Homo sapiens: one gene and its partners. The protein of the gene in region 3 purifies or fractionates together with the protein of the main gene of each other region. This does not show direct contact. Each region holds a gene or a part of one and is shown on either strand. Other genes may lie near its edges. The genes, in order: PAK2, CAPN1, G6PD and HARS1.

Evidence for each region.
Region 1: the proteins of G6PD (region 3) and PAK2 fractionate together in Homo sapiens (co-fractionation; 2 studies listed by BioGRID). This does not show direct contact.
Region 2: the proteins of G6PD (region 3) and CAPN1 fractionate together in Homo sapiens (co-fractionation; 2 studies listed by BioGRID). This does not show direct contact.
Region 4: the proteins of G6PD (region 3) and HARS1 fractionate together in Homo sapiens (co-fractionation; 3 studies listed by BioGRID). This does not show direct contact.

Annotation. Positions count from the first base shown.
Region 1 is NC_000003.12:196,826,833-196,833,153, reverse strand, and holds the end of PAK2 (serine/threonine-protein kinase PAK 2), read right to left. Parts: intron 5,959-6,321; coding exon 5,821-5,958; intron 4,836-5,820; coding exon 4,749-4,835; 3' UTR 507-4,748; downstream 1-506. UniProt on the Homo sapiens protein: Serine/threonine protein kinase that plays a role in a variety of different signaling pathways including cytoskeleton regulation, cell motility, cell cycle progression, apoptosis or proliferation.
Region 2 is NC_000011.10:65,184,901-65,191,930, reverse strand, and holds part of CAPN1 (calpain-1 catalytic subunit), read right to left. Parts: intron 6,015-7,030; coding exon 5,881-6,014; intron 5,762-5,880; coding exon 5,593-5,761; intron 4,717-5,592; coding exon 4,633-4,716; intron 3,977-4,632; coding exon 3,891-3,976; intron 3,518-3,890; coding exon 3,443-3,517; intron 3,346-3,442; coding exon 3,185-3,345; intron 1-3,184. UniProt on the Homo sapiens protein: Calcium-regulated non-lysosomal thiol-protease which catalyzes limited proteolysis of substrates involved in cytoskeletal remodeling and signal transduction. Proteolytically cleaves CTBP1 at 'Asn-375', 'Gly-387' and 'His-409'.
Region 3 is NC_000023.11:154,530,863-154,536,848, reverse strand, and holds the end of G6PD (glucose-6-phosphate 1-dehydrogenase), read left to right. Parts: intron 1-670; coding exon 671-708; intron 709-803; coding exon 804-912; intron 913-1,463; coding exon 1,464-1,681; intron 1,682-2,352; coding exon 2,353-2,511; intron 2,512-2,688; coding exon 2,689-2,814; intron 2,815-3,179; coding exon 3,180-3,273; intron 3,274-3,720; coding exon 3,721-3,907; intron 3,908-4,046; coding exon 4,047-4,282; intron 4,283-4,386; coding exon 4,387-4,463; intron 4,464-4,568; coding exon 4,569-4,661; intron 4,662-4,758; coding exon 4,759-4,849; 3' UTR 4,850-5,458; downstream 5,459-5,986. UniProt on the Homo sapiens protein: Catalyzes the rate-limiting step of the oxidative pentose-phosphate pathway, which represents a route for the dissimilation of carbohydrates besides glycolysis.
Region 4 is NC_000005.10:140,681,358-140,688,387, reverse strand, and holds part of HARS1 (histidine--tRNA ligase, cytoplasmic), read left to right. Parts: intron 1-5,168; coding exon 5,169-5,288; intron 5,289-7,030. UniProt on the Homo sapiens protein: Catalyzes the ATP-dependent ligation of histidine to the 3'-end of its cognate tRNA, via the formation of an aminoacyl-adenylate intermediate (His-AMP). Plays a role in axon guidance.

The DNA of each region.
Region 1 (6,321 bases), on a different chromosome or scaffold from region 3:
GCCTTATTTTATGCTTTTTGATAGTAAACCATTATTGTGGCTGTTCCCTATGTTAGGGTACCTAAGATTCCAAATTAATTCACATAATGAAGTGATGCCTTACGACGTATTGCACTCTAAAAGGTTTCTTGGTTCACTTAACACAGAAATTCTGATCAGGTTTTTATTACTCCAGCAAGGTGTGTGTTCAAATCAGAACTGTTTCCCTGGGTCTGATAGAGAAACATTGATAAAGAAAATTATTCTGAACTTGATTTAGAAAGGGAAAACTTCCCCTAACTACTCAGGAGGCCGAAGCAGGAGAATCACTTGAACCTGGGAGGCAGAGGTTGCAGTGAGCTGAGATGGCGCCACTGCACTCCAGCCTGGAAGAAAGAGTGAGACTTGTCTCAAAAAAAAAAAAAAAAAAAAAAAAAAGGAAAACTTCATGTTTACTGCCCACACATTTCTAGAAACCTTCCTACTTTGGAGCTTTGTAATAAATTCAAAATGATGGCACAACACCATTAAAAGGTTTAAAACATTTATCACTAAAAATACTAAATGTTCTTTGAAAACCTATTAAGACATTTAAATATTCTTTTATGCTATCAAAAGACATTAAAATATTCTTTTACGCTGATCAAAAGAAAGAATAAAAGTTTAGGAAAGGGAAAAATGCACACTTTTTTTAAAAAGTTTATTTCTAGCCCTGAAAGAACAAAATTATTGAACAAAGTCAAAATACAGCAGTTAATGTCAATGTATAACAATTAAATAATTGAACGGGATTAAATTAAAAATAAAAGGCATAAAATTTGAAGACAACAGAAAAGACAAAAACTACTTTTGCTTAATTCCATTTCTATCAAAACAAGAAAAAAAAAGCCAATGCGTTCCAACCAAAGATGTTGAATTCCACACGTAACTGTTTCTCTTATTACTTCTGTTCTCTTAGAAACACTTCTAAGTTCTAAGAGAACAGAAGTGTGCTTGACAGAACTATCATCCATTTCTTTCTGCCTCTGTCTTGGCAGCTTTCTAGAGAAGTGAATGGGAAAGACTTCGGTTCTTTCAAGGCCAGGCCAGCGCTTGCTTCTTCTTTCGAACTCCAACCTCATCCACCACAGCATCTTTGCCAGAGTGTTCAATCAATGTGTTGACTGAGAAAAAAGAATGTGTGTATCTATTTTTTCTTATATACACACACTATCAAAAAACTGATTTTACCAGTTTCAATACCTACTGTGGGAGCAGCGGAGACAGGAAGACAATCTGCTTTTTGTATTACTATGAAGTTCCACTATAAAAAACCCCAAATGAGTATTAATCTGGATTTTAGCTATAATCTATAATATTTTGACACTGACATTTCACTAGATGTGGATCTCAGTATATTTTAAAAGATTTAGACTCAAAAATGGATGCAAATTCTTTAAGCATCTATTTTGTTTTTTTCTAATTTTAGCTACTACCTGATCAGATCTAAAATTATTCTGGCTAGAATACAGTATATACAAACATGTATTTAAGTGAGCCCTAAAAGAAATACTCATAGGTGGTTTAGAATCGCTTGTTAGAGGCACAGGTTCGTTTACAGTTGCTGGTTACTAGACTGTACGCAGCTGGACACTTCTATGTTAAAGGGAAGAGAATGAATACTATGTGCCAGGCAGTCAACACATGAAGACAGAGTTGTATTAGCCTCAGTGTCTTATGCTTCACAATTACTCGTTTACTTTCAGGTAGGATAAAATGTTCCATGTTTCATAGTTTCCCAGTTTTAATTGTCCCTAAAAGCAGCAGAAGAAAAAAGAAAAAGAGAAGATAACTTTAAATCTAAAATAAAATAAATAAGTACTATAATAATACTGTCCTAATAACACAAGAGGACTATTAAGGTAACTTTCAGATTTAAATGGGAATTTTCATTCTAAAGTGATGACAAAAAGGGTAAATATAAAAGGCAATTATTTAAAAAACATGAGGCCAGGTGCAGTGGCTCACGCCTGTAACTGCAGCACTTTGGGAGGCCAAGGTGGGCAGACTGCCTGAGCTCAGGAGTTGGAGACCAGCCTGGGCAATGTGGTGAGACTCTGTCTCTACTAAAAATACAAAAAAATAGCTGGGTGTGGTGGCGGGTGCCTGTGGTCTCAGCTACTCAGGAGGCTGAGGCATGAGAATTGCTTGAACCCAGGAAGCGGAGGTTGCAGTGAGCTGAGATCATGTCACTGCACTCCAGCCTGAGTGACAGAGTGAGACTCTGTATCAAAAAAAATAAAAATAAAAAACATGAATCTTGATTCAGATATAATTTTTCTTTCAACAAGTTCTGAATGTTTTAAAATTAATAAATCACAATTCTGTATTACTTTTAAGATTGTTTAAAAATGACACATTTCAAAATTAACCAAAGTATATTTCTGTTAGAGGTTAGTTTATCCACGTAACTTAAGAATAAACCACAGCGTAGCTCCCTTAACCAAAGAGCCAGGTTTTAATGACAAGTCAGTTGCCAGCAATGGACGTGCAGGTAACTATCGAAGAAGTCGCAACTACAAATCCCAAACTGCTTCTATCAATGGAAAAGCCCTTTGTTGAGTCACAAGCCTGAAACGAGGCGTTGGCACATAGTCAGTGAGGATGGTCTTTGACTTAGGAGGGAAGTGCCTCTGAGTACATGAGGATCACAGTCTTCTCATCTCGTTGGTTTTCTATTTCATTGGTAGCATCTTCTTTATCATAATCCATCCAACTGTTTACAAAGAATGGTAAAATTTGGAACTCAGGTGGCACTGCAGCTTTCTGCCAGAAATAAACCAGTTTCTATAATTCAGTAATAGCTGTAGAAGGCCAATATATTCCAGAGAAAAATGAAATCAAGAATTATATTGAAAACAGAGACCATTAAGTGCTCTAAATATGTTTCATTAATTATTTTACTCATTTTTCTGAAAATCTTGCCTTATCAATAAAAAACAGTCACTTCTCTCCTTATAATTGCATCTTATCATAGATATAGTGGAAATAAAATAATGGAAATAAAACCTGCCAGTTTCTCCAATGTATACTACAACAGCAAAATTATTTTTTATTCATGATTTATACTACTGCAGGATGGCAAGCAGGGGGGAAGTTAATGGGGGAAGGGGATGGTGGGAACAAAATGCCAGAACCAAACCACAGATACTTGAACAACACCCACTCCAAAAGCAAAACAATGAATAAAGGAGAAGAAGAGGAGAGGAAAAAAGAGAAGAGAAAAGGGAGGGGAGGGGAGAAGGGAGGGCACTCAAATAATTAATGCTACAGGTCTCAGACCTTTTAGAATCTTTAAAAGAAACAAATTATTGCTATCAACACGCACATTTCATTTTCCTTTCTCGTTTTTTACAATAGTCTCTACTTATTTGAAAAAACAAAACAAAACTAAACTAAAGTAACTCAACATCTCAAATGATCTATAAATTCATCAAGAAATACTCTGTCGCTCAAGTTCTCATAGATAATACCACACTGCTGACGACCTGGGGCAATGCCACCGCCGCCAAGTCTCTACAGTCGATTTGCTATCGGCTGCTTCTCTGTAACACTAACATTCTCTTTCATGAGTATAATCTCTTCTCACTGTATCAGAGCTCACCAAGGTTCACATCTCTTACTGCCTCTGCTGCTAGTCCCAAATATTTTTCTCCTTTAAGTGGAAAAAAGCTAATTTTTAAATTCCTGAAAATTCACTGGTTATTATATTATTTGCCATGGGAGGGGGTATCTGTGAGGTGAGAGAGGATTAATGAAAAAGAAAAAGAACAAACCTAAACCTAAAATTGCAACATATACAGAAATTTATTTCCAAATTGAAGGGGGAAAGGAGGGAAGAAGGTAGTGGCACTAACCAAAGTCACAAAGCCCAGGTTGGAACAACAACAAATCACTTTGGTTCCTAGAGCCAAGCCTGAAGGGGAAACAGGCAGAAGGGAAGACAAAATGGGAAGAAGTCTACAGTCAATGGGAATCTTTTTCTATCTCAATGATTTAGTTATAAATAGAGATTATTAGTCTTCTCTCTATACATGTAACAAATGCCGAACTTACTACCACGAAATTTCTAAAACTGACTTTTTCACATTTGTTAAAAAAGGTAAAAATCACATACTTTTCTTCCCTTCCTTCAGGTCAAGTTCTGAACTAAAATATTACATGTAACAACAGCTGGTCCTAACTTTTATACAAAGTGAAACTATATAGAGCTCCTTTGCCAACATAAGGAGCTACATAATTTCTATTACACTTGCCTAGGCATGAGAAACGCAAAAGCAACTCAAAAGGAGCAAGTCCAGGAAAAGAAAAGCTATGAAGGAGAGAAAGACTAGCAGATGAAACACATACTCTGAAAAACTCCAATCTGCCATTCAAGTATTGGAAATACCCCAAAGGGGACAATGAATGGGATCTATTACAACAAAGTCAGCAAAGTAAAATGCAAATCTCACACATGATAAATGGCCCTGATAGGCTGTTTGCTGAAAGACCTAAGGCTAGTGATTCAGTCCACAATTCCTTCTGGACCCTAAAGAAGGGGTTCATATAAAAGTCATACTTGTCTTTTTGCAATTTTCTCTTGGTTGTCTTCAGAGAATAGTCATTTGCTTCTTTCATTCAGGTTATGCAGACCATTTCTTTAAACCCCAAAAAGAGTAATAATTTTCATATACTAAAAGGCTTCTTGTAGAAAATGGAAAAAAGAGTATGAGGCCACAGCAGTGATGTTAACGGTTACTCTTCATTGCTTCTTTAGCTGCCATGATCAGTGGTGTCAAGCTAGATAACGGTTTGGCCAGTTTCAGGAAAGGATGCTGCCAGAAAGAAGGGGAAAAATAAATGTATAAGTGCCATTCATCAGGTTAGAAACAAAATAATTTTGTTCAATTAAGCCCCAAAGACTACTTGTCGATCATAATTTAATAAACTAAACACATATTAATACCTTCATAAGACTAACATAATCAACGCATTACTTTCAGAGTTGAATGAAAGCAGAATCATTTTAGTTTGACAAATATACACACAACAGCAATAAACAGGTCTGAGGAGTGATACGATGCACAAACTGTAAACAGGTCTGAGGATTGATACGATGCACAAACTGTAAACAGGTCTGAGGATTGATACGATGCACAAACTGTAAACAGGTCTGAGGATTGATACGATGCACAAACTGTAAACAGGTCTGAGGATTGATACGATGCACAAACTGTAAACAGGTCTGAGGATTGATACGATGCACAAACTGTAAACAGGTCTGAGGATTGATACGATGCACAAACTGTAAACAGGTCTGAGGATTGATACGATGCACAAACTGCACATTACGGTTTTGTCAGAATTTTATTCACAGCAGATGAAACCCTCACTTTTTTTTTTAATACTTTAAGTTCTAGGGTACATGCGCACAACGTGCAGGTTTGTTACATATGTACACATGTGCCATGTTGCTGTGCTGCACCTGTTAACTCATCATTTACATTAGGTATATCTCCTAATGCTATCCCTCCCCACTCCCCCCACCCCACAACAGGCCCCGGTGTGTGATGTTCCCCTTCCTGTGTCCAGGTGTTCTCATTGTTCAATTCCCACCTATGAGTGGGAACATGCAGTGTTTGGTTTTCTGTCCTTGCGGTAGTTTGCTCAGCATGGTAGGATGAAACCCTAAATTGCAGCAGCTGCCATACCGCTGGTGATCAATGAGTAGTGAAATCTACTTATTAGCCCTAGGAAAGCTTTCTGTCGGTTACCAAAAAAGTCAACTATTCCCCCAAATGAAATCATTTTTAAATTTACCTGTAATAATTCTTTGGCTGAACCCCTTTTTTCCACATCCATTTCCAAACATCGATTTAAGAAATCCCGAAATATTGGGGAAAGTTTCTCTGGATTCTGAAGTTCTGGGGTTCCATTAGTTGCTATTAGGTACAAGGCCTAAAAATAGAAGAACATCTTTGATCCACTTAAGATAGCTCAACACGGTCACAGAGCACTCCATAAAGTCTAAGGGATTCTTTCTTCTTTAAAGAAAATCACCATAAATACTAAACTGGGGTTATCATTATCCCATTTAAATTTAGATTTGATACTTTCCTCTTATTTTTAGATGTTACATTTCCTTAAGTTACTTTTCTGAAATCAGATTCACCTTTGGTTTTTCTTCGGTTATAAATGCAATACATATTGCTTTTGTTTTGTTTTTTTTTGTTGAGACGGAATCTTGCTCTGTCACCCAGGCTGGAGTGCAGTGGTGCAATCTTGGCTCACTGCAACCTCTGCCTCCTGGGTTCAAGTGAC
Region 2 (7,030 bases), on a different chromosome or scaffold from region 3:
TAAAAGGTATCCACAAAAAACCTAGATTAGAAAGGTACTTAGTGGTGAAAACTTCCCCTTTAAGAGTGAGGCTTAGTTAATAGGGTTGCTCCTAAAAATAAGAATAAAAAAAAGGGAGGAACAAGAGCAGGAAGCTCTACAGTTCTAGGCAGCATATTAGACAAGAAAAAGTAACAAAAGTTGTAAGAATTAGAAAAGAAGAAACAATCTGTCATTATTTGCAGATGCTATATTCCTAATTAGAAAACCAAAAAGGGCTGGACGCAGTGGCTCACTGTAATCCCAGCACTTTGGGAGGCCAAGGCAGGCAGATCACCTGAGGTCAGGAGTTCGAGACCACCCTGGCCAACATGGTGAAACCCTGTCTCTAATAAAAATACAAAAATTAGCCAGGTGTGGTGCCGCACGCCTGTAATCCCAGCTACTCGGGAAGCTGAGGCACGAGAATCACTTGAACCAGGGAAGCAGAAGTTGTAGTGAGCTAAGATCGTGCCAAAAAATACATACAGATGAATCAGTAAGATTAATTAGTTTTAAAAAATTTGCTGGATATAAAAACTACATCTAAAAGGTCAAATGCATGTTATCGTATGAGCAACAAGATCACTTGGGAGATGTAATTTTAAAGAACATACTATTTATAATAGAAACAAAATTATAGTGTACCTAGCATTAAATCTCAAGAGATGTATAAATTCTTTATGATAAAAAATACAACATTCTATTGAAAGACATTAAAGGCCAAAATAAATGAAGAGATACACCATATCCTTGGATAAGACTTAAAATTATAAAAATGTCAAGTCTCCCCAAATTGGTCTATAGGTTTCATGTAATTCCAAATTAAAATCTCAAAATGGTTTTTCAAAAGACTTGGTAAACTGATTCTAAAATTCATTTGGAAAAACAGAGGTCAAGAACAGCTAAGACAGATGCAGTGGCTCACGCCTGTAATCCCAGCAATTTGGGAGGCTAAGCCAGGTGGATCACTTGAGTTTGAAACCAGCCTGGCCAACATGGTGAAACCCCGTCTCTACTAAAAATACAAACATTAGCTGGATGTGGTGGCGGGCACCTGTAATCACAGCTACTCAGGAGGTTGAGGCAGAAGCATCATCTGAACCCAGGAGGCAGAGGTTGCAGTGAGCCGAGATCGCGCCACTGCACTCCAGCCTGGGCAACAGAGCAAGACTCCGTCTCAAAAAACAAAAACAAAAACAAAAAAAACCAACAACAAAAAAAACAGCTAAGAGACTCTTGAAGAAGGAATTTGCCCTGTCCAACAGCAGGACTTACACATCTGTAGTAATGGATTCAATGTGTTATCGGCAGAGGGATAGACCCAGGGACAGAATGGTGAGTCCAGAAACAGACCAACACATACCTCAGGACTACTTGAGGGCGCTAGTGCTGCTGGGGAGAGACGAGATGATGTATTTCTCAATAAATGGTACAGGGAACGGTGGTTATCTATTTGGGGAAAGACTGAAATTGGATCCCTACAAGGGAGAAGAATGCTTCAAAACAGAGGGCAGGGAGCCGTGCTGAGGATGCAGCACAGGAGGACAGAGCAGCGGCGGATCTGGCAAGGCCAAAGCTTAAGTGACCTTTGAGAGGGTGGTTTTAGCAGCATGGTAGGGATGAAGCTGGACTGGGAAGGGTTAAGCAATGAAGCAGAAGTGAGAAAGGAAATAGGGAGTATGGTAATTCCTGATAAATTGTGCTTTGAAGGAGGGCGGAGAAATGAACAGGGAAGTGGGGTCGAGAGGGTTGCTTTGTGTTAAGACAGAGGACTCTCCGTAATGACACTGGAGAGAGAGGTGACAGATGAAGGAGCAAATGCTTTCAGAGGTGAGGGAGAATGGGATCTGGAGCAGACGTGGGGGTCCCCATGAACAGGGACTGTTCTGCCACTGTCGCAGGTGGGGAGGCGATGAGGACACAGGCACAGGTGCAGAAGGCTGGGGGATTTGGAGGTGGGAACACAAGGTGTCCTGCAGGATGAAGTCTATCTTTTCAGTGAAGTGCAAGGCCAGGCCCGAAGGTGAGAGTAACAGTGGGGAGATATCGAGGTGAGAGTGGAAATGTTACTAACCAGTAGTGGAATTGCTGGGGATTATGGAAAATGCTCATTTGAGATTTGTGGCTAAGAATTTACAGGGAAAATATGGCATCGGTTATGTGATTTCTCTCCTGCCACACTCAATGGTTCCCAAGCCAGTGGAGATGGGTTTTGTGCCAGATGATGGGAGACAGGGGCCAGGGAACTGAAAGTGTTTGTAGGAACAAGATTAAAATGATAGCTCTAACCTAGGTAAGGAGAGAAGGCAAGATGGGAGAGGCAGGATGGTACGCAAGTGATGGGTTCAACGGACTGGCTTGGTCGAAGGGTTGAAGACTAAGGGAGTGGAAAGAGTCGAAGGTGGAGGTCAGAGAGCGGGTGTTTGCAAGACAAGGCAGCTCTGGTGCCCTCATGGTGGGGGCTGAGCTAAGGTAGAGAAAAAGCGTGCTGCAGTGAGAGTGACAAGGAACTGAGAGGCCAGGCTGTGGCCCACATCAGCCACATGGATCTAGAAGCCCAGGGAAAGGTGGCAAGAGAAGGCAAGAAGGGACCTGGCACAGTGGCGCACGCCTGTAATCCCAGCACTTTGGGAGGCCAAGGTGGTCGGATCACCTGAGGTCAGGAGATCGAGACCAGCCTGGCCAACATGGAGAAACCCTGCCTCTACTAAAAATACAAAAATTAGCTGGGTATGGTAGGTGCCTGTAATCCCAGCTACTCGGGAGGCTAAGGCAGGAGAATTGCTTGAATCCGGGAGATGGAGGTTGTAGTCAGCCAAGGCCACGCTACTGCACTCCAGCCTGGGCAACAGAGTGAGACTCTGTCTCAGAAAAAAAAAAGCGAAGGCAGGAGGGAAGGGCCCAGGAAAGGAGTGACAGGCAGGTGGCTGGATGGCCACAAGATCTTTGCCCCTCATGAGCACCCTGGGCTCAGGCCCCAAGACGGTGAGTCAAGCATGCCTCTTTAAAATTTACTAGGACATTTAATATTTTACTCCTCAAAGCAAATTCAAGAGATCAGCCTATATCTTGCAAGTGAGGAAACGGAGGCTCAGTAAGATGACGTGCCTTCTGGAGCCCCTAAGCCAGGAAGCAGCAAGACCCAGAGCCCGCCCCTGTGCACCTGGGTAGTTTCGGCAGCCCCCCGCGGTGCTCCCCCGCCGCCAGGTGCCTTCGTAGAGTGTGGTGTTCCATTTGCGGATGGTCCGGCTCTTGAGGGCGTCGGGTGTGAGGTTGCAGATCTCCAGGCGGGTGAACTCCCGCATGAAGTCTCGGAATGACATCCTGAGGTGGGAGGTACACAGGTGAGGCACAGCCCGTCAGGGCACAGAGCTGATGTGTAGGGGTGGAGAGGTGGGGTAGAAGGGGAGGGGGCGCTCACCAGAACTCCCCGTCCTCCATCTTGACCCGGAGCTGGTCCCGTTCATATGGGTCCACGTTGTTCCACTCTGAGGAGCTGTGAGGAGCAGGGCTCTGCCAGGGCTGGTGGGCACTGACCTGCCTGGCCTCTGTCCCTGGGGCCTGTCTACCCTGGCCTGTCTTCCCCCGGCCCAGCCCAGGTGGCCTCCTCAAGGTCAAGCGCCAAGGTTCCGCTTCTAGGGGGTGGTCTCATCAGGGCCAGTCTGATGCCCTGCACACACCCGACGGCTGGGCACAGGGGCCCGCACGGCCTGAGCTTTGTCAGAGCAGTCCCCCAGACCCAGTCGCGCGAAGATGGGCCCCTCTGCTCAATCCTGAGTCCAGCCTGGCCTGGTAGAGTCCCGAGCAGAAATGTCGGGGCACCTAACAGTTTCCCCAAGGCACTCCAGACAGTGCCCACTGCCCCTCACCTGTCGCTCCAGGCTCCCGTCCACTCCACCTCGCCCCAGGGGTTCCGCATCCGGATCAGGCTCACCACCTGGCCTCGGTAGTTCACCTATTTGCCAGAGCTCCTGTCAGTGCTAGCTTCCAGCAGGCACTTTTTTTTTTTTTCTTTTTTGAGACAGAGTCTTGCTCTGTCACCCAGGCTGGAGTGCAGTGGTGCGATCTCAGCTCACTGCAACCTCCGCCTCCTGGGTTCAAGCAATTCAATTCTCTTGCCTCAGCCTCCCAAATAGCTGGAATTACAGGCACCTGCCACCACACCCAGGTAGTTTTTGTATTTTTAGTAGAGACAGAGTTTCACCATGTTGGCCAGGCTGGTCTCGAACTCCTGACCTCAGGTGATCTGCCCACCTCAGCCTCCCAAAGTGTTGGGATTACAGGTGTGAGCCAGTGCACCTGGCCCATGCACGCACTTTAACACTCCGCCTCCCATACCCTCATCCTCTCCAAGCCCTGCTCAGCACCCAGATGAAGCCTGTCCTCTTGGAATTCACAGCCCAGGCAGGCAGCTGCACACATGAACTACAGTCAGTCAGGGCAGGACATGATAGGCATCTCAGATGGGTGTCCCCAGAAGAGAGATAAGGTGCTGCAGGAGGGGAAAGGAGGAGCCAGCACCTTCCACAGCCCTGGTCAGGTGCCAGAGAGGCAAGGACAGGCCAGGGGGCAGGAACCGCCCTTCAGGGAAGGCCCCACCCAGGGCAGTACCTGCTTGGCCCCGGTCACAGAGTAGGCATGGCCCTTCACCAACTTCTTGAAAGTGATGGCCTCCATGTCTAGAACGCTGGAGATCTGCAGAAAGAGGCACACACTGTGGTCAGTGGCTAGGTCCCCCCGCCCTATCAGATGAGCCCCCAGCACTCAGGGTCTTGGACGTTCCCACTTGCACATACAACAGTTGCTAGGAGAAGCAAGCAGGGACCCCGATCCCACCTATAGACACCCCCACATATAGATGCTGCTCTTTTGGAGAGGGGTAGCCTGGGTACCCCACCAATGCTGCCACTGGGACAGGGGAGCCCAGGCACTCCGCTGACACTGCTACTGGCCAGGGCTGACCAGAACCTGTGCGAACATGCATGTGCACACACACAGCCGTGCACAGCCCACCAGAGCCACACAGCCCTCAGTGGGCCTCACGGAGAAGGACGTGAGGACAGAAGAGTCAGTTAGAAATGGGAATGGGAGCTGGGGTTAGAGCTGCGGATGGCAGTGATACTGGGGTCAAGTCTGGCGTTGAGGACTGGGGAGCGGAGTTGAGTGTGGGAACAGAGGAGCAGGGAAGGGTGGGAATGGAGTGAGTGTGGGATTGAGGCTAGGGATGGGTGGGAACTGAGACCAGGAGATGAAATCTGAGGCTGGTGAACTGGACAGAGGATGGCATGGATTGAGATGACAGGAATGAGGGAAACAGCATGGTAGACGGGAAAACAAGCACAGGAAAGAGCTGAGGTGTGAAGTTTTGGGGGAGGAGTGGGTAGGTGAGGACAGGAGCGACACCAGGCATGGGGGGTGGAAGTGATGGATGAGGCAGGGTATGCATCCAGAGATGAAGCTTAAGTGCAGGACAGGGTCTGGAGCGGAGCCTGGGTGGGGATTTTAGAAAATGTGACAGGTCAGGATACCAGGGTTCCAGGGTACCAAAGCATCGGGGCCGGGCACACTCACGTCTATGGAGCAGCCCAGCAGGGAGCCCCGCTCCAGCGCCTTGAGGATGATCTGGTAGAGGTCACTGGGAGCCTTGCGCAACTCGTACCACTCGGTAACCCCGCCTGTGAAGTCCTCAAAGCCCTCTGAGGTGCTGCCCCCTGACAGGGCCTCGTAGCTGCCATTTACCCTGTGGGCAGCTCCAGGTCAGCACTCTGGCATCAAGCAGGACCCTCTGAGAAGACAGTCATGAGCCCCCACCCCTAGGGGGAGCTGGAAGCTGGAGTTGCCCCCTCAGCCGCTACTCACTTGGCATAGGCCTTCTCAAGCAGGGCGCTCCAGAACTCGTTGCCTTCGGCAGAGTGCACGAACACTAGCTTCCCGTCCTTGATGGGCAGCAGGTCATCCACGACCACGTCCACCCACTCCCCAAATTGCCACAGCTGTGGGGGAGGGGCACGGTGAGTACCTGCTTTGGAATCCCCCGGACCTGAGCTCCATCCTTACCCCTACCTTCCTAGATGCAGGATTCTACATCCCAGATACATACTAGATACACATAGACTAAATCATGTAAATTAGATACATACTAGATGTATACTAGGTCAGGTATACCAGATACATAGTAGATGCATGTATACTAAATCACATATACTAGATACATACTAGATGCATGTGTACCTCTAGATACATGTATGCTACAGATATACTAGATACATGTATCTAGGTATTGAAGGAAATCAAAGTATTTCACCCTGAAATATACTTCTTCAACATATTTTGAGATAGCTGTTCAGAGGGTCTGCAAACAGAAGTAGCCCTGTAATACTGTCTTTTGTGGGGGAGATTTGCATCTGTAGAGAAAATCTGCATTGATGTAGCCAGGCTTTCTCTAAGGCCTTCCCTTGTCAGACTGAGAGCCTGACACCCTTTAAAGGTCTGAACGAAACAATTACCATCTATTCCCTCTGAGGGCTGCTACCTGTGAGGTTTCATCTACATAACAAGACTGCCTTTGCTACCCAGGCCCCCTTTTCTCCCCCTTCCATAGTCTGTCTTGCCACTATAACCTGATTTACCACCAGAAACTGGTTTTGGCCATGTTCGAGCCCCCATTCTTCCTGTAACCTCAGGATGGTATATAGGCTTCTGTACCCATTGTGGGGCTGGGGTGAACACTCTGTGGTTCCCGACCCCACGCTGCAGGCTAATCAATTTGTATGCCATTTCTCCTACTAACCTCCTTTTGTGAGTTGATTTTTCAGTGAACCTTCAGAGGGCTAAGGGGATGCTTTCCTTTGCCTGTACAATGTATACTAGATACCTGCATATTTGCTGTATACTAATACATGCATACCACATATAGACATGTGTATACTTGATATGTACATGTATGCTCGAGACATACTAGCTACATGATCCTGGAAAAGTTATCGCCTCTGAGCCTCAGTTTCCCTAT
Region 3 (5,986 bases):
TTTCTCACTTTTTTTTTGGAGATGAAGTCTCACTCTTGTCACCCAGGCTGGAGTGCAGTGGCACGATCTCGGCTCACTGCAACCTCTGCCTCCCGGATTCAAGTGATTCTCCTGCCTCAGCCTCCTGAGTAACTGGGATTACAGGTGCCTGCCACCACACCTGGCTAATTTTTGTATTTTTAATAGAGATGGGGTTTTGCCACATTGGCTGGTCTTGAACTCCTGACTTCAGGTGATCTGCCTGCCTCAGCCTCCCAAAGTGCTGGGATTACAGGTGTGAGCCACCGCATCTGGCCCTTTTTCTCACTTCTTAAGTGGAATGCTTAGCTCCTTATTTTTGAACCACTCTTTTTTGCTAATGTAAGCACTTGAGGTCACGTCTCACAAATGTGGCTACATGGTACTTCTGTCGTCCCTTGGTTCTACTGAATTGAATTTTCAGGTTTTCTCCTGGAACGCAGGAGATGCGTTTATGTCTTCTGGGTCAGGGATGGAGGGCTGGCACAGGCTTGAATCTCGGGGCTCTTCTGTCTGTATATCAGGCAAGACAGACATGCTTGTGGCCCAGTAGTGATCCTGAGTAGTGCCCAGATCACCAAGGGTGGAGGATGATGTATGTAGGTCGTGTCCCCAGCCACTTCTAACCACACACCTGTTCCCTCTGCCACAGGGTGACCTGGCCAAGAAGAAGATCTACCCCACCATCTGGTAAGTGTGTCCCACCACTGCCCCTGTGACCTCCCGCCAGGGACAGGCCTGGTCCTGCCCTGCCCGCACTGGTTACAGCTGTGCCCTGCCCTCAGGTGGCTGTTCCGGGATGGCCTTCTGCCCGAAAACACCTTCATCGTGGGCTATGCCCGTTCCCGCCTCACAGTGGCTGACATCCGCAAACAGAGTGAGCCCTTCTTCAAGGTGGGTGGTGTCAGGGCCTCCCCCAGCCTGGTTCTGCCCTCTCTACCAGCCCCCAGCATGGCCAGCTTCGGGGACCTCCCCCCATCCCATCCCGGGATGCTCTCCTCCTCTCCTGCCCCGCCCCGCCTGCTCTCGTACTTCCTTGAGACCCCCATTACCAGCCCCCGTGACCAGGACCCACAGGTCCCCTCCTGCTGTGCTCTGCTGCGTTTTCTCCGCCAATCATAGTTGGGTGTCATGATTTTGGAGAGAGAGCTTTCTCCAGTGTATTTCTCCCAGGTCAAAATATCCTGAAATCTGGCCTCTGTCCTAAGGCACAGGGGTCCCAGCCTGGGGCAGTGTCTGTGCTGCCTGCTTTGGCCTCCCTCCCTCTGGATGTGCAGAGCTGCTAAGATGGGGCTGAACCCAGTGTGGGACGGGGACACTGACTTCTGAGGGCACCCTCCCTGGACCTCCAGGGAAGACCCTCCACTCCCCTGGGGCAGAACACACACGGACTCAAAGAGAGGGGCTGACATCTGTCTGTGTGTCTGTCTGTCCGTGTCTCCCAGGCCACCCCAGAGGAGAAGCTCAAGCTGGAGGACTTCTTTGCCCGCAACTCCTATGTGGCTGGCCAGTACGATGATGCAGCCTCCTACCAGCGCCTCAACAGCCACATGAATGCCCTCCACCTGGGGTCACAGGCCAACCGCCTCTTCTACCTGGCCTTGCCCCCGACCGTCTACGAGGCCGTCACCAAGAACATTCACGAGTCCTGCATGAGCCAGATGTAAGGCTTGCCGTTGCCCTCCCTTCCCGCCTGCCAGGCTGGCCCAGGCAGTGCTCCCACCACTCTATGAGCGTGTCCGGGGCCGGGGATCTGGGCAGCATCCATGGTGCCGGGGCCATCCCCAGCGGGACCACAAGGTGGCAGCGTTGCTCCACGAAACACCGCCTTTCCGCTCTGCTTCCCCAAAGGCCCGGCCAGGCCGCAGGGTGGCAGCCTTGCTCTGCGAATGCAGCATGGCCCGCGCTGGGTGGTTTCCCAACCCAGCCAGAGGCTCTTGTCCTCTGGCTGGTTTTGAATGCGGGGGTAGTAAAGCAAAGGTCCTCTTCTCATTTTCAAAACCAATGAGGAAGCCATGGCTTGGATGCCTCCTCCCCCTGCTCCCCTACAGGCCTTCAGGCCACTCAGACCCACCGGGGACCCAGCATGAGGCAGGAGGGGAACGGGCCCCCGGCAGCATGCCAGCAATGCCACCCTGGCACCCAGGGTGGGAAGGCTTCCCGGAAGGTGTTGAGCCAGAGGGTCATCTGGGAACACAAGGCACGGGAGGTGGCCACGGGGGCGAGGAGGTTCTGGCCTCTACTCCCCTGGGAGGGCGTCTGAATGATGCAGCTCTGATCCTCACTCCCCGAAGAGGGGTTCAAGGGGGTAACGCAGCTCCGGGCTCCCAGCAGAGGCTGGAACCGCATCATCGTGGAGAAGCCCTTCGGGAGGGACCTGCAGAGCTCTGACCGGCTGTCCAACCACATCTCCTCCCTGTTCCGTGAGGACCAGATCTACCGCATCGACCACTACCTGGGCAAGGAGATGGTGCAGAACCTCATGGTGCTGAGGTGGGGCCAAGCCTGGGCCGGGGGACCAGGGTGGGGGTGGTACTCAGGAGCCTCACCTGGCCCACTGCCTCCCCGAGGACGAATTCCTCCAGAACTCAGACAAGGGTGACCCCTCACATGTGGCCCCTGCACCACAGAGGCCCAAGGTCAGTTCCTCCACCTTGCCCCTCCCTGCAGATTTGCCAACAGGATCTTCGGCCCCATCTGGAACCGGGACAACATCGCCTGCGTTATCCTCACCTTCAAGGAGCCCTTTGGCACTGAGGGTCGCGGGGGCTATTTCGATGAATTTGGGATCATCCGGTGAGAGCTCTTCCTCTCTCCTGGGAGGCTGGCACAGGGTGGCAGAGCCAGTCACCCTGCAGGGCTACTCTTCCCTATCTTGGGGGAGCTCCTCCTCACCCTGCAGTTCAAAACCTAAGTGTCTGAGCTATCAGACCGGGCTGGAAAGGGCTGGACCCCTACACAGCCAAGCACCCCACGGTTTTATGATTCAGTGATAGCATCACCATGTCCTTCCTTGATTTAAGGGGACCTGGAAGACAAGGGGGATCAGGAAGTGAGTCTTGCAGCTTGTCACTAGGAAGCCTTGTTTGGGGTCCCCATGCCCTTGAACCAGGTGAACAGGGCGGGGAGCTAAGGCGAGCTCTGGCCTCTTCCGTCCCCAGGGACGTGATGCAGAACCACCTACTGCAGATGCTGTGTCTGGTGGCCATGGAGAAGCCCGCCTCCACCAACTCAGATGACGTCCGTGATGAGAAGGTAGGGGGTGCACCCCAGTCCCCAGGAGCATGCCCTGTCGCAGGCCCATCTGTGACGAGGCACTGAGCTGGGGTGTGCATGCAGAGCAGGTGTCCTCAACCCCGGAGAAGTCACCACCTCTGAGCACAGCGTGGCCTCCCGGAGGTGACCTGGACTGGCAGTCATGAAGCCCAAGTTGTCATGTCCCAGGCCTGACAGTCACTATGTGACCAGGGAAGGCCATTGCCTCTCTGGGCCTCAGCTTGTTCATCAGAATAGACTCGAGATGGACCAGGGTGGTCCTGGAGGGTCCTCAGGGAGGGGCCCTGAGCTGGGCCTCTGGCAGGGTGAGCAGAGCCAAGCAGGGGCCTCCTCCTGCCCTGAGGGCTGCACATCTGTGGCCACAGTCATCCCTGCACCCCAACTCAACACCCAAGGAGCCCATTCTCTCCCTTGGCTTTCTCTCAGGTCAAGGTGTTGAAATGCATCTCAGAGGTGCAGGCCAACAATGTGGTCCTGGGCCAGTACGTGGGGAACCCCGATGGAGAGGGCGAGGCCACCAAAGGGTACCTGGACGACCCCACGGTGCCCCGCGGGTCCACCACCGCCACTTTTGCAGCCGTCGTCCTCTATGTGGAGAATGAGAGGTGGGATGGTAGGTGATGCCTTCGAGGCCCAGCAAGGCAGAACTGGGCATGCCCTGTGTGCGGGCACTGGAGCTCCCACTGAGACACTCACGCACTGGTCCACACCCTGAGAGAGCTGGTGCTGAGGCTGCCCTTTCCGCCACGTAGGGGTGCCCTTCATCCTGCGCTGCGGCAAGGCCCTGAACGAGCGCAAGGCCGAGGTGAGGCTGCAGTTCCATGATGTGGCCGGCGACATCTTCCACCAGCAGTGCAAGCGCAACGAGCTGGTGATCCGCGTGCAGCCCAACGAGGCCGTGTACACCAAGATGATGACCAAGAAGCCGGGCATGTTCTTCAACCCCGAGGAGTCGGAGCTGGACCTGACCTACGGCAACAGATACAAGGTGCCCTACAGAGAAGGAGCAGTGTGGAGGGTGGGCGGCCTGGGCCCGGGGGACTCCACATGGTGGCAGGCAGTGGCATCAGCAAGACACTCTCTCCCTCACAGAACGTGAAGCTCCCTGACGCCTATGAGCGCCTCATCCTGGACGTCTTCTGCGGGAGCCAGATGCACTTCGTGCGCAGGTGAGGCCCAGCTGCCGGCCCCTGCATACCTGTGGGCTATGGGGTGGCCTTTGCCCTCCCTCCCTGTGTGCCACCGGCCTCCCAAGCCATACCATGTCCCCTCAGCGACGAGCTCCGTGAGGCCTGGCGTATTTTCACCCCACTGCTGCACCAGATTGAGCTGGAGAAGCCCAAGCCCATCCCCTATATTTATGGCAGGTGAGGAAAGGGTGGGGGCTGGGGACAGAGCCCAGCGGGCAGGGGCGGGGTGAGGGTGGAGCTACCTCATGCCTCTCCTCCACCCGTCACTCTCCAGCCGAGGCCCCACGGAGGCAGACGAGCTGATGAAGAGAGTGGGTTTCCAGTATGAGGGCACCTACAAGTGGGTGAACCCCCACAAGCTCTGAGCCCTGGGCACCCACCTCCACCCCCGCCACGGCCACCCTCCTTCCCGCCGCCCGACCCCGAGTCGGGAGGACTCCGGGACCATTGACCTCAGCTGCACATTCCTGGCCCCGGGCTCTGGCCACCCTGGCCCGCCCCTCGCTGCTGCTACTACCCGAGCCCAGCTACATTCCTCAGCTGCCAAGCACTCGAGACCATCCTGGCCCCTCCAGACCCTGCCTGAGCCCAGGAGCTGAGTCACCTCCTCCACTCACTCCAGCCCAACAGAAGGAAGGAGGAGGGCGCCCATTCGTCTGTCCCAGAGCTTATTGGCCACTGGGTCTCACTCCTGAGTGGGGCCAGGGTGGGAGGGAGGGACGAGGGGGAGGAAAGGGGCGAGCACCCACGTGAGAGAATCTGCCTGTGGCCTTGCCCGCCAGCCTCAGTGCCACTTGACATTCCTTGTCACCAGCAACATCTCGAGCCCCCTGGATGTCCCCTGTCCCACCAACTCTGCACTCCATGGCCACCCCGTGCCACCCGTAGGCAGCCTCTCTGCTATAAGAAAAGCAGACGCAGCAGCTGGGACCCCTCCCAACCTCAATGCCCTGCCATTAAATCCGCAAACAGCCCCTCCTGTCCCCTTGTCATTTGCTTCCCTGAGGACCCACTTCCTTGTCCCACTCCCCAAGTCACCCGGGTGCTTCCTCTGTGGCCACTGAGGAGCCTCCTCACTTCTGGTTCTGACCCCATGTCCAGCCATGACCATGTTTGGTGTCAGAGACACCTCCTGAGTCCTCCTCCGCTCCACGCATATTGTCATTGTGAGACCAGCTTGAGGTGCAAGGATGTGGGGTCACCTTCCGCTCTTACTGTCCATGTCCCTGCCCCACCCAAGATGACTTCCAGCAACACTGCCAGTCCACAGAAGTATTTAGGAAGGAGAGGGGATGGGTTTTGTGACTGATGTCAGAGGCCAAGGGAGAGGGGACAGTCCACAGTGATGCACAGCCAGGCCCAGCCACCCCTTCCAGGCAGAAGGGCCACACACTGGGCAGCTCTCAACATAGGCTGATTCTCCCAGTTCTGGAGGCCAGAGTCCAAGATCCAGCACTCCCGCCAGAGGCCCAAGGGGAGGGTCCTTCCTGCCCTCTCCAGCT
Region 4 (7,030 bases), on a different chromosome or scaffold from region 3:
GTCAGGGCTTAAATGAAATAAGAATAGCAGATGTTAATGGTTGTTGAAGCTGGGTAATGGATAAATGGTGACCTGTAATACTATTCTCTATATTGTGTCTTTGAAAATTTCCATACTATAGTGTTAAGATTATGCTAGAGAGTTAATATCCATTTTAGTATTAACAATAGAAAACTCAGTATTGTGGGGACAAGACTCTTTCAAGGGATCTTCATGGTCAAAACTATTTCTATAATAATTCTTTTGTTTTGTTTTGTTTTGTTTTGTTTTGTTTTGTTTTGTTTGAGACGGAGTCTTGCTCTGTCGCCCAGGCTGGAGTGCAGTGGCGTGATCTCAGCTCACTGCAACCTCCGCCTCCCGGGTTCAAGCGATTGTCCTGCCTCAGCCTTCCGAGTAGCTGGGACTACAGGGATGTGCCACCGCACCTAGCTAATTTTTTGTATTTTTAGTACAGATGGGGTTTCACCGTGTTGGCTGCGCTGGTCTTGAATTCCTGGCCTCAAGTGATCCTCCCACCTCGGCCTCCTAAAGTGCTGGGATTACAGGCGTGAGCCACTGCGCCTGGCCCTTCTATAATAATTCTAAGACATTATCTGCCTTTTTCGTTGTGTTAACATTTGCACTGAAGGCACAAAAGCGCTGGTGAGTAGAACTGCTGGTGCCTTAGCATACATTAAGACAGTGACACTAAACTGTACTAATAGCCAGTGTGTTCTTCACTGCCATGCACTCACAGTAAGTAAATAAATAAATTAATTAATTAATTAATTTAAAAAATTCAGTTTTACTTAACTATGTCATTGATAAAATGGTAAAACTTTGTTTGTTTTGGGGTTTCTTTGGAGACAGAATCTCACTCTGTTGCCCAGGCTGGAGTTCAGTGTCACGATCTTGGCTCACTGCAGCCTCCACTTCCCGGGTTCAAGCAATTATTGTGCCTCAGCCTCCTGAGTATCTGGGATTACAGGCGGGTACCACCACATGCAGCTAATTTTTTGTATTTTTACAGAAATACAAAAAACATACAAGAAACCTACAACATGTTTCACCATGTTGCCCAGGCTGGTTTGGAACTCTTGAGCTCAGGCAATCTGCCCACCTTGGCCTCCCAAAGTGCTAGGCTGAGCCACCATGCCTGGCCAAAAACTTACTGATTTTATTGAATCTTGACCCTTGAGGACCCTATTTTTAAATATTTGCTATGACAAAATGGGAAGTACACATAAAGCACTTCTGCACGCCAAGGTAGGGAAAATGCTTATGCCATTGTTCAAGTTGCAAGCTGATCTAGCTACTTTTTTCATAGAACATCTTGTTTTATTTGAATTAACAACTGAAAGATAAATTATGGTTTTTCAAACTTAAATATTTGGCAGACATTTTTACAACAATAAACGAAGTGAGCCTCGTCACCTCAAGGAAAACATCTGACAGTACTTGTAGGCAGTGAAAAAATTCAAGTATTCAGGTGAAAGTTAGAATTTTAGAAAACTTAGTCAGGGCATGGTGGCTCAAGCCTATAATCCCAGCACTTTGGGAGACCAAGGCGGGCGGATCACCTGAGGTCGGGAGTTTGAGACCAACCTGACCAACATAGAGAAACCCCATCTCTACTAAAAATTAGCTGGGCGTGGTGGCGCATGCTTGTAATGCCAGCTACTAGGGAAGCTAAGGCACAAGAATCGCTTGAACCTGGGAAGCAGAGGTTGTGGTGAGCCGAGATCGCGTCATTGCACTCCAGCCTAGGCAACGAGTGAAACTACATCTCAAAAAAAAAAAAAAAAGAATTTTAGAAAACTTGCATCTTCCATCATAAGCTTGACAGCTTCCCAATAATTAAAGAGTTTTCTACTGGGTGTGGTGGCTTACGCCTGTAATCCCAGCACTTTGAGAGACCAAGGTGGGCGGATCACCTGAGGTCGGGAGTTTGAGACCAGCCTAGCCAACATGGTGAAACGCTGTCTCTACTAAAAATAAAAATTTAGCCAGGTATGGTAGCTCACGTCTGTAATCCCAGCTCCTTGGGAGGCTGAGGCAGGAGAATCGTTTGAACCTGGGAGGTGGAGGTTGCAGTGAGCCGAGAACACGCCACTGTACTCCAGCCTGGGTGACAGAGTGAGACTCCATCTCAAAAACAAACAAACAAATAAAAACAGGCCAGGCAAGGTGGCTCATGCCTGTAATCCAAGCACTTTGGGAAGCAGAGGCAAGTGGATCATGAGGTCAGGAGATCAAGACCATCCTGGCTAACATGGTGGAACCCCGTCTCTACTAAAAATACAAAAAATTTGCCGGGCGTGGTGGCACGCGCCTGTATGTAGTCCCAGTTACTCAGGAGGCTGAGGCAGGAGAATTATTTGAACCTGGGAGGTGGAGGTTGCAGTGAGCCGAGATCACACCACTGCACTTCAGCCTGGGTGACAGAGCGAGACTCCATCTCAAAAAAAAAAAAAAAAGACTTTCTTGATGAGATCTGAAGTGATGTAAATAAATAAGGCTTCCTGATATTGTATAATGAAATGTATCAACATTTGAAAGACCTGTTATGAAATCATGCACAGGCAAAGGATCCATTCATTCAAAGTACAAAATACAGTAGTGGATTTTTTTTTGTAGGAAAATATACGTAACATAAAATTTACCATTTTAATGATTTTTTTTTTTTTTTGAGACAGAGTCTCACTCTGTCACCAGGCTGGAGTGCAGTGGCATGACCTTGGCTCACTGCAGCCTCCACCTCCTGGGTTCAAGCAATTCTCCTGCCTCAGCGTCCCAGGTAGCTGGGACTACAGGTGTGTGCCACCACGCCCAGCTAATTTTTGTATTTTTTAGTAGAGATGGGGTTTCACCATGTTGGCCAGGATAGTCTCGATCTCTTGACCCCGTGATCCACCTGCCTTGGCCTCCCAAAGTGCTGGGATTACAGGTGTGAGCCACCACGCCCAGCCCATTTTAATGATTTTTAAGTGTACAGTTCAGTAACATGAAGTACATTCATACTCATAACCATCACCATTATCCACCTCCAGAATTTTTTCATCATCCCCAATTGAAACTCTGTACCCATTAAACAATAACTCCCCACTTCACCCTCCCTCCAGCCCCTGGTAACTGCTATCCTACTTTCTACTTTCTGTCTCTATGGATTTGACTATTCTAGGTACTAGATAAGTGAGAGACTAATTGTTCTTTTTTTTTTTTTTTAAGTTCATTGATCTAGCTTTCAAATTCCACATTGCAACCAATCTTTAAGAAACAACCACTTGTTGGATTCTGATGTAGTACCAAAGAAAAATATCCACAGTTAGCTGAAAAGTTTGTTAAAATACTCTTCCTTTTACAACTACATATCTGTGTAAGGTTAGATTTTCGTTATATACTTCAACCAGCACGACATATCACGACAGATTGAATGCAAAAATCACATATGAGAATCCTGCTGTCTTCTATTCAGTCAGACATTAAAGATTTGCAAAGATGTAAATCAGTGCCACTCTTCTCACTAAATTGTTTTGGAAAACAGTTACCTTTTTCTAAAATATTATTTGCGTTAACATATAATAGATATATTATTTGTGTTAACATATGTTATTTGTTAAATGAATAAATATTTTAAAATTTTTGCCGTTCTAATTCTAATACAGTAAATATTGATAGGTATAATCCACTTTGGGGTCTTGAATACATAGTAAGAGTGTAAAGAGGTCCTGAAACCAAAGACTTTGGAGTAGGGTATAAAAGCCCAGATTGGAAGCTCTGACCTGGAAGGACAACACAGTTCTAGTCCTGACTGCCACGAACATGCTGAATGGCCTTAAGAAATGACTTAACTTCTCAACATCCTGTACTTCATCTGTAAAATTTATCTGCCTAGCCTATGTCATAGAGTTGTTACCAGAAACAAATTAGAGAACAAACAGTTGTAACTAAGATTTAAAAGAAAAGTTATATTGGGAGAGAAACGTTGCTTATAAAATTTGGAATTCAATTAGTTGAGCCAGTTTGAGTTGGTTATATTGCCTATAATCATGTAGGTATTTTTTTGTTGTTATTATTTTTGTTTGTTTGGTTGGGTTTGTTTTTGTTTTTGTTTTTGTTTTGACAGAGTCTTGCTCTGTCTCCCAGGCTGGAGTGCAGTGGCACTATCTCAGCTCACTGCAAGCTCCACCTGCCGGGTTCACGCCATTCTCCTGCCTCAGCCTCCCAAGTAGCTGGGACTACAGGCACCTGCCACCACGCCCGGCTAATTTTTTTGTATTTTTAGTAGAGACGGGGTTTCACAGTGTTCGCCAGGATGGTCTTGATCTCCTGACTTCGTGATCCGCCCGCCTCGGCCTCCCCAAGTGCTGGCATTACAGGTGTGAGCCACCGCGCCCGGCTGGTTGGTTTGTTTTGTTTTTGAGACAGAGTCTCGCTCTGTCTCTCAGTCTGGAGTGCAGTGGTGCAATCTTGGCTCACTGCAACCTCCGCCTCCCAGGTTCAAGTGATTCTCCCTGCCTTGAGCCTCCTGAGTAGCTGGGATTACAGGCACCTGCCACCACCATTTGTTTGTTTTATTGAGACAGTCTCACTCTGTTGCCCAGGCTGGAGTGCAGTGGCACAATCTCGGCTCACTGCAACCTCCACCTCCCAGGTTCAAGGATCCTCATGCATCAGCCTCCCAAGTAGCTGGGACTACAAGGGGCGTGTCGTCGCACCCGGCTAATTTCTGTATTTTTAGTAGAGACGAGGTTTCACCATGTTGGCCAGGCTGGTCTCGAACCCCTGACCTCAGGCAATCCATCTGCCTTGGCCTCCCGAAGTGCTGGGATTACAGGCGTGAGCCACTGTGCCTGGCCTCAGGTAGGTGTTTGTTATTAGGCCAGGAAATGTTCTGTTATCTGAGAGAGAGTGTTTAGAAAAATGGCTTAAAGAAAAGAGTTCTAAGAATTTTAGAAAATAGACCCAAACTTAAAAGGGAATGGAGTTTGGAAGGCAGATAGCAAATGGGTGTGGGAATTAATAGGGAATTATTTGTACTTGTTTTAAAACTCAGTGGCCTGTAGGAAAATCTGTTTAGAGCAGGATTTGCTTTTTCATTATTGAGGTCATCCTTTTATATTTCCAAAACATATTGTTCTTGGTTTTCAAACCTCATTTCTGGTTCTCTGGCTGATTTCAACTCCAAGGGCACAAGAGACTATAGTCCCCGGCAGATGGCAGTTCGCGAGAAGGTGTTTGACGTAATCATCCGTTGCTTCAAGCGCCACGGTGCAGAAGTCATTGATACACCTGTATTTGAACTAAAGGTGAGGAATGGGCAAGAAGAAACTACATGGTAGATGAGTGGGCATTTGAATAACAAAGAAGATGACAACAAGAGAGTGAGGGTCCAAAGGGCCCACTCCTGTTGTGGACACAGACCAGTCTTTGCTCCAATAAGAAGGGGGACAAGAATGGCTTGGAGGGAGAGGCCCTGTCTTTTATTATCTTGGTTGTGGCCAGCAGATTCCAAAAGAGAGCCATTCTTTGGAATGGTAATTGTTCTGGGTCCTCTCTACATTGTATTGCGTGGCATCTGTACTTGGAATGTTTTCTAGATTCATGCAAACCATACGTACATAAATATGCAACCACTCTCCTATTGATGGACTCTGAAGTTGTTAGTAGTTCTTTGCTATTAAAAACTAGATTGCAACTGGGCACATCTGTAGTTCCTGCTTCTCAGGAGGCTGAAGCAGAAAGATCACTGGATCCGAGGAGTTCAAGGCTGTAGTGTGCTATGATGGTGCCTGTGAATAGCCACCATACTCCAGTCTGGGCAATGTAGCAAGCCCCTGTCTCTAAAACAAACCAGCCAACCCAGATTGCATTACTACCTGCTTCAAACCCAGTGATTCCCACTGCACTTATAGTACAACCCAAACTCTTTACTCAGGTTTACAGAGCCCTAGGTGATCTGGCCACTGCCTCTCCTACCTCATCTCATGCTATTTTTCCTCTTGCCCACTATGCTACTCTGGTCTTCTTCCTACTCTTGGAACATAGTCAGTGTGTTTGTACCTCCACACCTTTGTTCTTGCTCTTCCCCTTTCCTGAACTCCCTTTCCTTAGCTCTTTGCATGATTTATTTCAGATTATACTAGAGACTGCAGATTTTAATTCCTTTTTAAAAAAAAAAAATACAAATAGAGACAGAGGTCTTGCTATGTTGCCCAGGCTGCTTGCGAACGAACCCCTGGCCTCAAGTGGTCCTCCTTCCTCAGCCTCCCAAAGTGCTGACATTACAGGCATGAGCCACCACGTCCAGCCAGCCAGATTTTAATTTCAGAGCTCAGCTAAAATGCCACTCCTCAAGTAATCTTCTCCAACTACCTTCTTTAAAGTAGCTGTTCTCTCTCTTATCACAATGAGCTAGTTTATTGCCTTTAGGCTATAAAACTGTCTGAAATTATCTGTTGTTTCCTTCATCAATGTCTCTTTTTATTGATATTTAATTGTACATATTTATGAGACTGTTTTTACCTACTGTATTAGTTTGCTAGGGCTACCATAACAAAGTACCATAGACTAGGTAGTCTAAACAACAGAAATTTATTTTCTCACAGTTCCAGAGGCTGGAAGTTGACATAACATGTTGGCAGGCCTAGTTCTTTCTGAAGGCCATAAGGAAGGATCTGTTCCAGGCCTCTCTCCATGGCTTGTAGATGGCCATCATCTCCCTTTGTTTTTTTTTTAATTGAGACAGAGTCTCGCTCTGTTGCCTGGGCTGGAGTGCAGTGGCACCATCTCATCTCACTGCAACTCCACCTCCCAGGTTCAAGCGATTCTCCTGCCTCAGTCTCCTAAGTAGCTGGGATTACAACACGTGTGCCACCACACCTGGCTAATTTTTCTATTTTTAGTAGAGACGAGGTTTCACCATGTTGACCAGGTTGGTGGTCTTGAATTCCTGGCCTCCAGTGATTCGCCCACCCCAGCCTCCCAAAGTGCTGGAATTACAGGCATGAGCCACCGCGCCCAGCCTCCCTTTGTCTTTACATCGTCTTCC